Regions from separate parts of the Homo sapiens genome. Here regions 1 and 3 are each linked to region 2. Evidence: fine-mapped expression QTL. A gene starts in region 2. Each other region holds a variant in brackets. All regions are shown on one strand. Distances are from middle to middle. Region 1 overlaps HADH (hydroxyacyl-CoA dehydrogenase). Region 2 holds the start of CYP2U1 (cytochrome P450 family 2 subfamily U member 1). Region 3 overlaps LEF1 (lymphoid enhancer binding factor 1).

Region 1 (2,761 bases), 72 kb after region 2:
CTCTGATAGGAATGTTTGTGTTCCCTCCAAAATTTATGTCGAAGCTGAATCCCCAGTGCAGCAGTATTAAGAGATAAGGCCTTTAGGAGGTGATTAGGTCATGAGGGTTCTGTATTCATGAACAGCTTAGTGCCATTTAAAGGGGCTTGAGAGACCAACTTTGCCTCTTCTCCCTTCTGCCATATGAGGACACAGTGCTCGTCCCCTCCAGAGCAGGGGTCCCCAACTTCTGGTCCGTGGCCCATTAGGAACCGGGCCACATAGAAGGATGTGAGCAGCTAGCAAGACTTCATTTGTATTTACAGCTGCTCCCCATCACTTGCATTGCTACCTGAGCTCTGCCTCCTGTTGGATCAAGAGTTGCATTAGATTCTCATAGGAGCATGAATCCTATTGTGAACTGTGCATGTGAGGGATCTAGGTTTCGTGTCCTTGTGAGAATCTAATGCCTGATGATCTGTCACTGTCTCCCATTATCCCCACATGGCACCATCTAGATGCAGCAGAACAAGCTCAGAGCTCCCACTAATTCTGTATTGTGGTGAGATGTATAATTATTTCATTATATATTACAATGTAATAATAATAGAAATAAAGTGCACAATCAATGTAATGCACTTGAATCATCCCTAAACCATCCCCTCTTCCCTGCAAGACGGTAGAAAAATTGTCTTCCGTGAAATTGTCTCCCATGTCTTCCTGGTGCCAAAAAAGGTTGGGGACCTTTGCTCCAGAGCATGCAGCAGCAAGGCACCATCTTGGAAGCAGAGAACAGCCCTCACCAGACACTGAACATGCTGATGATCTTGATCTCTGTTGTTTATACATTACCCAGTCTTTGGTATTTTGTTATAGCAGCACTAACAGACTGAAATAAGCCATATTACTAGAGTTTAGGAATTTAATGGCTCAGGAGAAAGTAGAAGCACCAAGTGTAGTGAATAAAATAGCAGCTAACAAGCTTTGTGCACCTTCACATGCCTGGCACTGGTCTAAGCATGTTAAACACATTAACTTCTTTAATCCTCACAACAGTTTTATGAGGTGGGTACCTTTGTTACTAACCTTTATGACAGATCAGGAAACCAAGACATAGAGGCTTCGTAGCTCACCCAAAGTCACACAGTGAGTGAGTGGCTAAATCAGTGTCTTAGTCTTTTTTTTTTTTTTTTTTTGCTGCTATTAACAGAATACCTGAGACTGGGTAATTTATAAAGAACAGAAATTTATTTTCTCATAGTTCTGGAGGCTGGGAAGTCCAAGATCAAGGTACCAGCTTTGGTGTCTGGTGCAGACCTACTCGTTGTGTCTTGCTGGGGGAAGAAGGCTGTCTGCACATGGCAGAAGGTGGAAGAAAGCTAGACGAACTTTCTCCGTCAAGTCCTTTTATAAAAACCTTTAATCCCATTCATGAGGGAGGAGCCCTCATGGCCTAATCTCCTCTTAAAGGC[C/T]GCACCTCTCAATACTATCATATTGGCAGTGCCTGACTTTTGAAGAGGACACATTCAAATCATAGCCAGGTTTTAAACCCAGGAACTCCAACTATAGGCTTGTTTCTCCACATATCACCATGCCACCAAGTAATTTAAAGACTTTGGTGGTAAAGCAAAGGCCAGCCTCAGGTGATTAAGGAGGATCCTTTTCTTCCTCCCTTTTTATATGGAGCAGGATCCCAGCCCGTTTGTAAAAAAATAGAAGGACACAGAAGGGAAAACTTGAAAATGAAAACTGAAAAACAAGTCATGAAATCAGAAGATGTGAGATCAAAAGCAAAATAAAATAGTTTACCTTAGAAGGCTGTGCCTGGATCCAACAATAGGCCTCAGACCCTTGCAGAAAGAAGAAGGGGGCAGCCCAGAATTAAAAAAAAAAAAAAACAAAAAAAAAACCCGCAAGCTATTGTGATGTGCCAGGCACCACTGCAGGTTTTTGACTTGTATTAACCCATTTAACCCTCCCAACAACCCTGTTGCCCCTGTTTTATAGATGAGGAGACAGCCTGCTGAGGTTAAGGAATGTTTTCCATCCCCAACTTGGCACACAGGCTCTGGAGTCTGGCCCTTGCCTGTCTCAGTACTGTTTCAGGCTGTTGCCCTCAGACCCCGCCATGCCTTCCAGGGTCAAGAAAGGCATGTGAGCAGGCAGCTTGAGCTCCCTGTCACGTGTAGACAGTGAGAATAATGTGCCTTCCCCAAAGGCAGTTATGAAGATCAGAGGAGATAATTTATGAAAAGTGCAAGCTCTCTTGAGAGTAGGGGATTTTGTTTGTTCACCTTACAAGGCAGGTGTTGAGTCAATAGGCTGCAGTCAGTGAAGGAATGAATGCAGTGGCATGCGCAGCGTGGTGGTCTAAGTGGTAGTTTTGGTCCATCCCTAGGGGAGCACAAGTCTTGGGCAGAGGATCAAAAGCACACACCTCTGAGAAGCCAAGTGTTTTTGTCTGTAACCTTTGATCATTCAAAAGGAAGCATTTTCTAACCTCTGCATTTTTTTACCCAAACTGTACAAAGGCTTCCTTGCTGTCCAAGTTGTGGTATACTCCAGTGCAGCTGCCTGGCTTCCAAGAGAAACTTAGCACTTCTTGTTCTGTTTGTAGCCTCAAATCAACATGTAACCAAAAGCTGTGAATGAATAATCCAAACTTGAAGAACCCCAGATTTTATTCAGGAGGAGTAACTGGAAGCCATAACCATGAACTTCCATATCTGTCATAGGAAAGAGGTTGGCCTCAGCAGCAATGAGGGATAATTCTTTCAAGAAA
Region 2 (2,710 bases):
GGAGGTTTTTTTTTTTTGTTTGGGGTGCATAAGCTTAAAATAACATGAAAAGCATGTCAAAAAGAATATGAGAACAGAGTGGACTTGAAATTTAACATATCCTACTGGCATCACTTGTTTATAGAAAAATAAAATGGATCATGTATTTATTTGAGGACTCACTATGCTTTCTTTGATCACATTTTTATAGGTACAGCGTGGTGTTCAAACTTTTAATGTATGGAGAAAAATGAAACGGCTAGAAAAATGGCCCAGTACAGACAATTCTATGCTCAATCCAACTTGAACAGAAACTACAGGATTTGGCCTAAACAAGACTGAAAGGGAAGCCCTTATCAGGAAAGCCATTATCTGAGAAGATAAAATAAAGTAATACTTTGTTTTTAAAGTATTATACAATTCATATCTAATATTTCAACCTCAGCCTTTCAAGTGTTGTCTAACACCAATAATAATATTGCCACCCCTCCCTCAACCGGTTATCTTCTTTTCATATTTCTAGCTACTTAAATCCACCAAGCAAATTCTGGTTTCGCTATTTCTGGATTTAAGTACATTTTCTAATGCACCCAGGCCACACGCAGGAATGGACACAGCTTTCGCTCTCCGCATAAGTTTTCTAGCCCAGGGCAAGCTCTCAGAACGTGACTCCTCGTGCCTCGCTGCCCGCCCCTCGCTCCCCCCACTCCCGCCATCATCCCTTCCGCAGAGTTGGCTGCCAAGCCGACACCCACAGATTCTGCATTCCACGGCTTCCCAGCATCCTGCTGTCTCTGCGTGGAGGAAAGGGTGCTGCGAATCCCAGTTTAGATAAGGAACCCCGTCTTTTCACTACTACACCGAAGCATGCAGGAATAGGGCGTTGACCCCATTCTCCCAGCTCAGGGCACAGGTGCTAAGGCCGACCCATCTCACGGGCCTGTTCACCAGTTTCCCACACTCAGTACAGATCCTAACACGGTTTATGCACTTCATAACCATGCGTTTGTGTTTGTCAACTGACAAACGAGTGATAATGACAAACGAATGACACAAGGGAAACCAACAGCCAATCAGAGCGCAAGGTTGTGTTGCCAGCATCCCAGTTTCAGGGACAGTCACCGCCAAGCCCGACCCTGCAAAGGGTCGTAACCGGACTTCGGGGCAAACTTCAGGTCCCCCGCCTGCTAGCCCGCCAACCCCCTCCGCCAGGCAGCCGGCGCGCCTCCAGGTTCCGCCCAGGCGTCGCTGAGTGGCGGCGGCGGGGAGAATGCGCGCGGCGCAGCCAATCCGGGGGCGTTCCTACACCCCCTGCCCGCCCCCGACCTTCCAGAGCAGAGCAGGACACTGGCGCCGCGGGTCAGGCAGCTGCGTGCGCGTCTCCTCCAGGCAGCAAGGGGAACCCGAGGCCGCCGGCGCCCGGACCATGTCGTCTCCGGGGCCGTCGCAGCCGCCGGCCGAGGACCCGCCCTGGCCCGCGCGCCTCCTGCGTGCGCCTCTGGGGCTGCTGCGGCTGGACCCCAGCGGGGGCGCGCTGCTGCTATGCGGCCTCGTAGCGCTGCTGGGCTGGAGCTGGCTGCGGAGGCGCCGGGCGCGGGGCATCCCGCCCGGGCCCACGCCCTGGCCTCTGGTGGGCAACTTCGGTCACGTGCTGCTGCCTCCCTTCCTCCGGCGGCGGAGCTGGCTGAGCAGCAGGACCAGGGCCGCAGGGATTGATCCCTCGGTCATAGGCCCGCAGGTGCTCCTGGCTCACCTAGCCCGCGTGTACGGCAGCATCTTCAGCTTCTTTATCGGCCACTACCTGGTGGTGGTCCTCAGCGACTTCCACAGCGTGCGCGAGGCGCTGGTGCAGCAGGCCGAGGTCTTCAGCGACCGCCCGCGGGTGCCGCTCATCTCCATCGTGACCAAGGAGAAGGGTGAGCGGGAGGTCGTGGGCTGTGGGTACGCGGATGCCGCGGATGAGTCTCCAGGTGCGTGGGGGCTGCAGTTCCTGTGCCCCTTCCGGCCGCCCGCGCCCCCAGGCTGCCTCACACCTGCATCCTGAACTAACAGGTGATGGTGGTGGCGGCGCTTCTCCTTTCTGATGCCTTTAAGATCCCATCAAGTAGTGACGGACGCGTGACTTGCTCATACTCCAAGATCATAAGTAGAAAAGTCATCCGGAGATTGAGGGAGAGTAATAGGGATGGCGGAAGGACAAGGTGGCAAGCCAGGTTCCATCTTTCCAAAAGTAGCCTTCCCTTCCACCAGCTGTGACCTCGGAGAGAAACTTTGGCCCCCATGTTAGAAAGAGGGAAGGATATTCTTTTTACCTTGTGGGTTTCGAATGTAAGAATTTAAGAAGATAATTTCCAATAAGATAAAAAGTCCAGAAAACACAGAAGAAGCCTATTACCAAATCTCCGGCTTTGGTTCATAGCCTCTGATTCCTGCGTATGGGAGTCTAAATTGGACATTTTTGGGGGTTGGAAAACGTGTTATCTGCTGCAATAAAATGTCCAATCTAACCTGTCTCTACCGTCCCCCTTTGTCTTACTGGCTGGCTTAGGTCTCTGACTTCTTTTCTGAGTCACTCCTACGCATCAGTCAGGTGTTAAATGCCTTTTCCTTGGGGAAGCCTTTTCTCACAGCCTCTGCAAGTAGGGTAGCCTCCCTTGTTAGAACCAGGTCCCTTGCCCAAGCACTTTTCCTTCACTACACTTTTCAAAACTGACGCTACATAACTTTATGA
Region 3 (2,761 bases), 140 kb after region 2:
GCTCTGTCCCCAGAGCACCACCTGGGTCTCAGCACCACGCTCCCCCACTCACACATGTCTAGAACATAGCCAGCACACAGTGACCAACTGAGCCTGCACCGTTACGCTTCTACCGCTAAATCAAATAACCTGTTACCTTCTAGGATATCAACCAGTTCTTCAAGAGAATCTACATTTATGATAGGCAAAGAGAACTAAGTAGTTTGGATGTATTAATGTCAAGTTATACAAAAACCAAAATTCATGTATGGTAAAAACAAAAAATTTTTTTTGTTAAAATTATACGGACTGTATAATATTGGAAAGCATTAAAAACTAAATTGAAAAGTTCTAACATTATAAATATTTGGCTAATCTCACCCAAGAAAATTTGTGCACTATTAATTAGCCTGTTATTAGCCAAAGTTAAAAAAACAAGTTCAAATTATAAATCTATGTCATGTAATAGGGTATTTTAATACTGAATAATTGAGATATATATTTCACACGATCTCACTGAGGATCAGGATACCATTCTGGCACTAAATGCCTTAATTTTACCTTTATTCTATCCCTGTACAGTACTGTTATTTAAAGAACAGTATCTTTAGATAAAGTACTATCATTGATCAGCTTCTGTTTGCCTCAGTAATTGAATGACTTATTTTGATTATGATGAAAACACTATGAACGAAGCTGGGCTTTCCCTTCATTCAAGGAATATGCAAAACAATTTCCTTTAAAAGTTGTGCAGAGGGAAATCTTTAAAGATAAATCACATTACAGTAGCTTTCTTTAAAACTACTTTCTTCCCACCCATCAACATGGAGAAGAGAGAGCAGATAGAGAAAGAGATAGAATATGTAGGTGTTTGTTTCATGTCTTTTTAAAAGTTAAAACTCATTACTTAAGAATTAGAAAAACAAATTTAAAGGCATTCAAGAAGCAATGCTGAATAAAATTCACAGCACAATGAAGTTTACAAAGGTCATATGAGGAAGATTAGCTCTCCCCCTTTAGACAAACTACACCCAAAAGACACCTAAGGCAGGATTAGAAGATCCTTTTTTTTTTTTTTTGGAGACAGTTTCGCACTTGTCACCTAGACTGGAGTGCAGTGGTGCGATCTGGGCTCATTGCAACCTCTTCCTCTCGGGTTCAAGCAATTCTTCTGCCTCAGCCTCCCGAGTAGCTGGGATTACAGGCGCACACCACCATGCCCAGCTAATTTTTGTACTTTTAGTAGATACAGGATTTCACCATGTTGGTCAGCCTGGTCTCGAATGCCTGACCTCAAGTTATCTGCCTGCCTCAGCCTTCCAAAGTGCTAGGATCACAGGCGTGAGCCACCATGGCTGGCCAGAAGACACTTTTGAAACCCTCTGGGTGAACACTGATCTTCCTACTTACAGGGCATGGCAGGAGCTCTATATAGAGATGGTAATTGCTGCTCAGAAAACAGAAGCCTGGCTCAGGGGTGAAAATTCTTCAACTACAGCAGTCTTAAGAAGGCACCGGGCCGGGCGTGGTGGCTCACGCTTATAATCCTAGCACTTTGAGAGGCTGAGGCAGGCGGATCACCT[C/G]AGGTCAGGAGTTCGAGACCAGCCTGACCAACATGGAGAAACCCCGTCTCTACTAAAAATACAAAATTAGCTGGGTGTGGTGGTGCATGCCTGTAATCCCAGTTACTCGGAAGGCTGAGGCTGGAGAATCGCTTAAACCTGGGAGACAGAGGTTGTGGTGAGCCGAGATCATGCCATTGCATTCCAGCCTGGGCAACAAGAGCGAATCTCTGTCTCAAAACAAAACAAAACAAAACAAAACAAAACAAAAAGAAGGTACTGGAAGACTGAGCTAATCCACTCAGGAGGAGGAAAACCACGTAGATTTTGAAGTCAGAGTGACCTGGGTGAAAACTTCAGCTTAGCCACCTACTACAAGGCCTTGCATAAATTACCTAAACTCTTCAGCCTCTCAATTTCCTCACCTGAAAAATGGAGTAATAATATTCATGTAATAGTATTCATTCCACCACTGGGTTGCTGTCAAGAATTTAAGACAGTTCCTAACCATCAGCATATGGTAGTTATTAAGGCAACCAAAATAACTCAGAAGAGCTGACTATGCTGTTTCCCATAAGTAACAGACAGACTCTTACTTCCTGTGTCAAACTTATATCCAATGTCTGAGCTCCAAACCTTGACCAGTAAAGTGACTTTTTCTGTGGAGCATATTATAGGAAATAAATTGTGCAACCCATTTCCAGAAATAAGTTTCCATGTGTGCATGACCTCAGATATGCATCCTTGTCATCATCTCTTGTGAGAACTTGAGCCCCACAGCAGCACCTAAAGCAATGGCTACATATTAAATTGTATATTAATTAACGGCTTCACTCTTGCTCTTTTAAAAAGAAATAATTTCACTTTTATTAAGACTGACCTGGCTGGCATTTCTAATGCTTGTCTCACGTAGACCCTGAGAATTACTATAGACTGAATGTTGTGTTCTCCCAAATACATATGCTGAAATTCTAACCCCCAATGTGATGGTATAATGAGGGAGAGTCTTTGGGAGGTGATCATAGCCTAAGCAAGGAGCTCTCATGAAGGGGATTAATGTCCTTATAAAAGAGACCCCAGAGCACTCTCTTCCCCCTTCTTCTACCTTGCAAAGATACAGCCAGAAGACTGGGACCAGGCCCTCACCAGACACCAAACCTGCCTGCACCTTAATCCTGGACTTCACAGGCTCCAGAAGTGTGAGAAATAAACCTGTTGTT

The links. PIP is the estimated chance that this variant, and not a neighbour inherited with it, causes the effect.
Region 1: its variant is fine-mapped to the expression of CYP2U1 in tibial nerve (GTEx, PIP 0.91).
Region 3: its variant is fine-mapped to the expression of CYP2U1 in whole blood (INTERVAL, PIP 0.92).

Annotation. Positions count from the first base shown.
Region 1 is chr4:108,001,950-108,004,710 of GRCh38, forward strand. All of the region lies in intron 1 of HADH (hydroxyacyl-CoA dehydrogenase), which reads left to right. Among named protein-coding and RNA genes, the nearest start is that of HADH, 13 kb to the left of the region's middle. The variant C/T (reference allele first, on the strand shown) is at 1,452.
Region 2 is chr4:107,930,239-107,932,948 of GRCh38, forward strand. CYP2U1 (cytochrome P450 family 2 subfamily U member 1) reads left to right here and starts at 1,311. Exons shown (of 5, transcript NM_183075.3): 1 at 1,311-1,895. The coding sequence starts at 1,406. CYP2U1-AS1 (CYP2U1 and SGMS2 antisense RNA 1) reads right to left here and starts at 1,881. Exons shown (of 7, transcript NR_125929.1): 1 at 1,733-1,881. The region is part of intron 1 of LOC107986298 (a long non-coding RNA gene); the gene reads right to left. It overlaps LOC124900751 (a long non-coding RNA gene), which reads right to left and starts at 1,347. Exons shown (of 2, transcript XR_007058221.1): 1 at 735-1,347. RefSeq lists enhancers at 681-1,188, 1,849-1,918, 1,979-2,048 and a silencer at 1,049-1,638.
Region 3 is chr4:108,066,490-108,069,250 of GRCh38, forward strand. The region is part of intron 9 of LEF1 (lymphoid enhancer binding factor 1); the gene reads right to left. Among named protein-coding and RNA genes, the nearest start is that of HADH, 78 kb to the left of the region's middle. The variant C/G (reference allele first, on the strand shown) is at 1,563.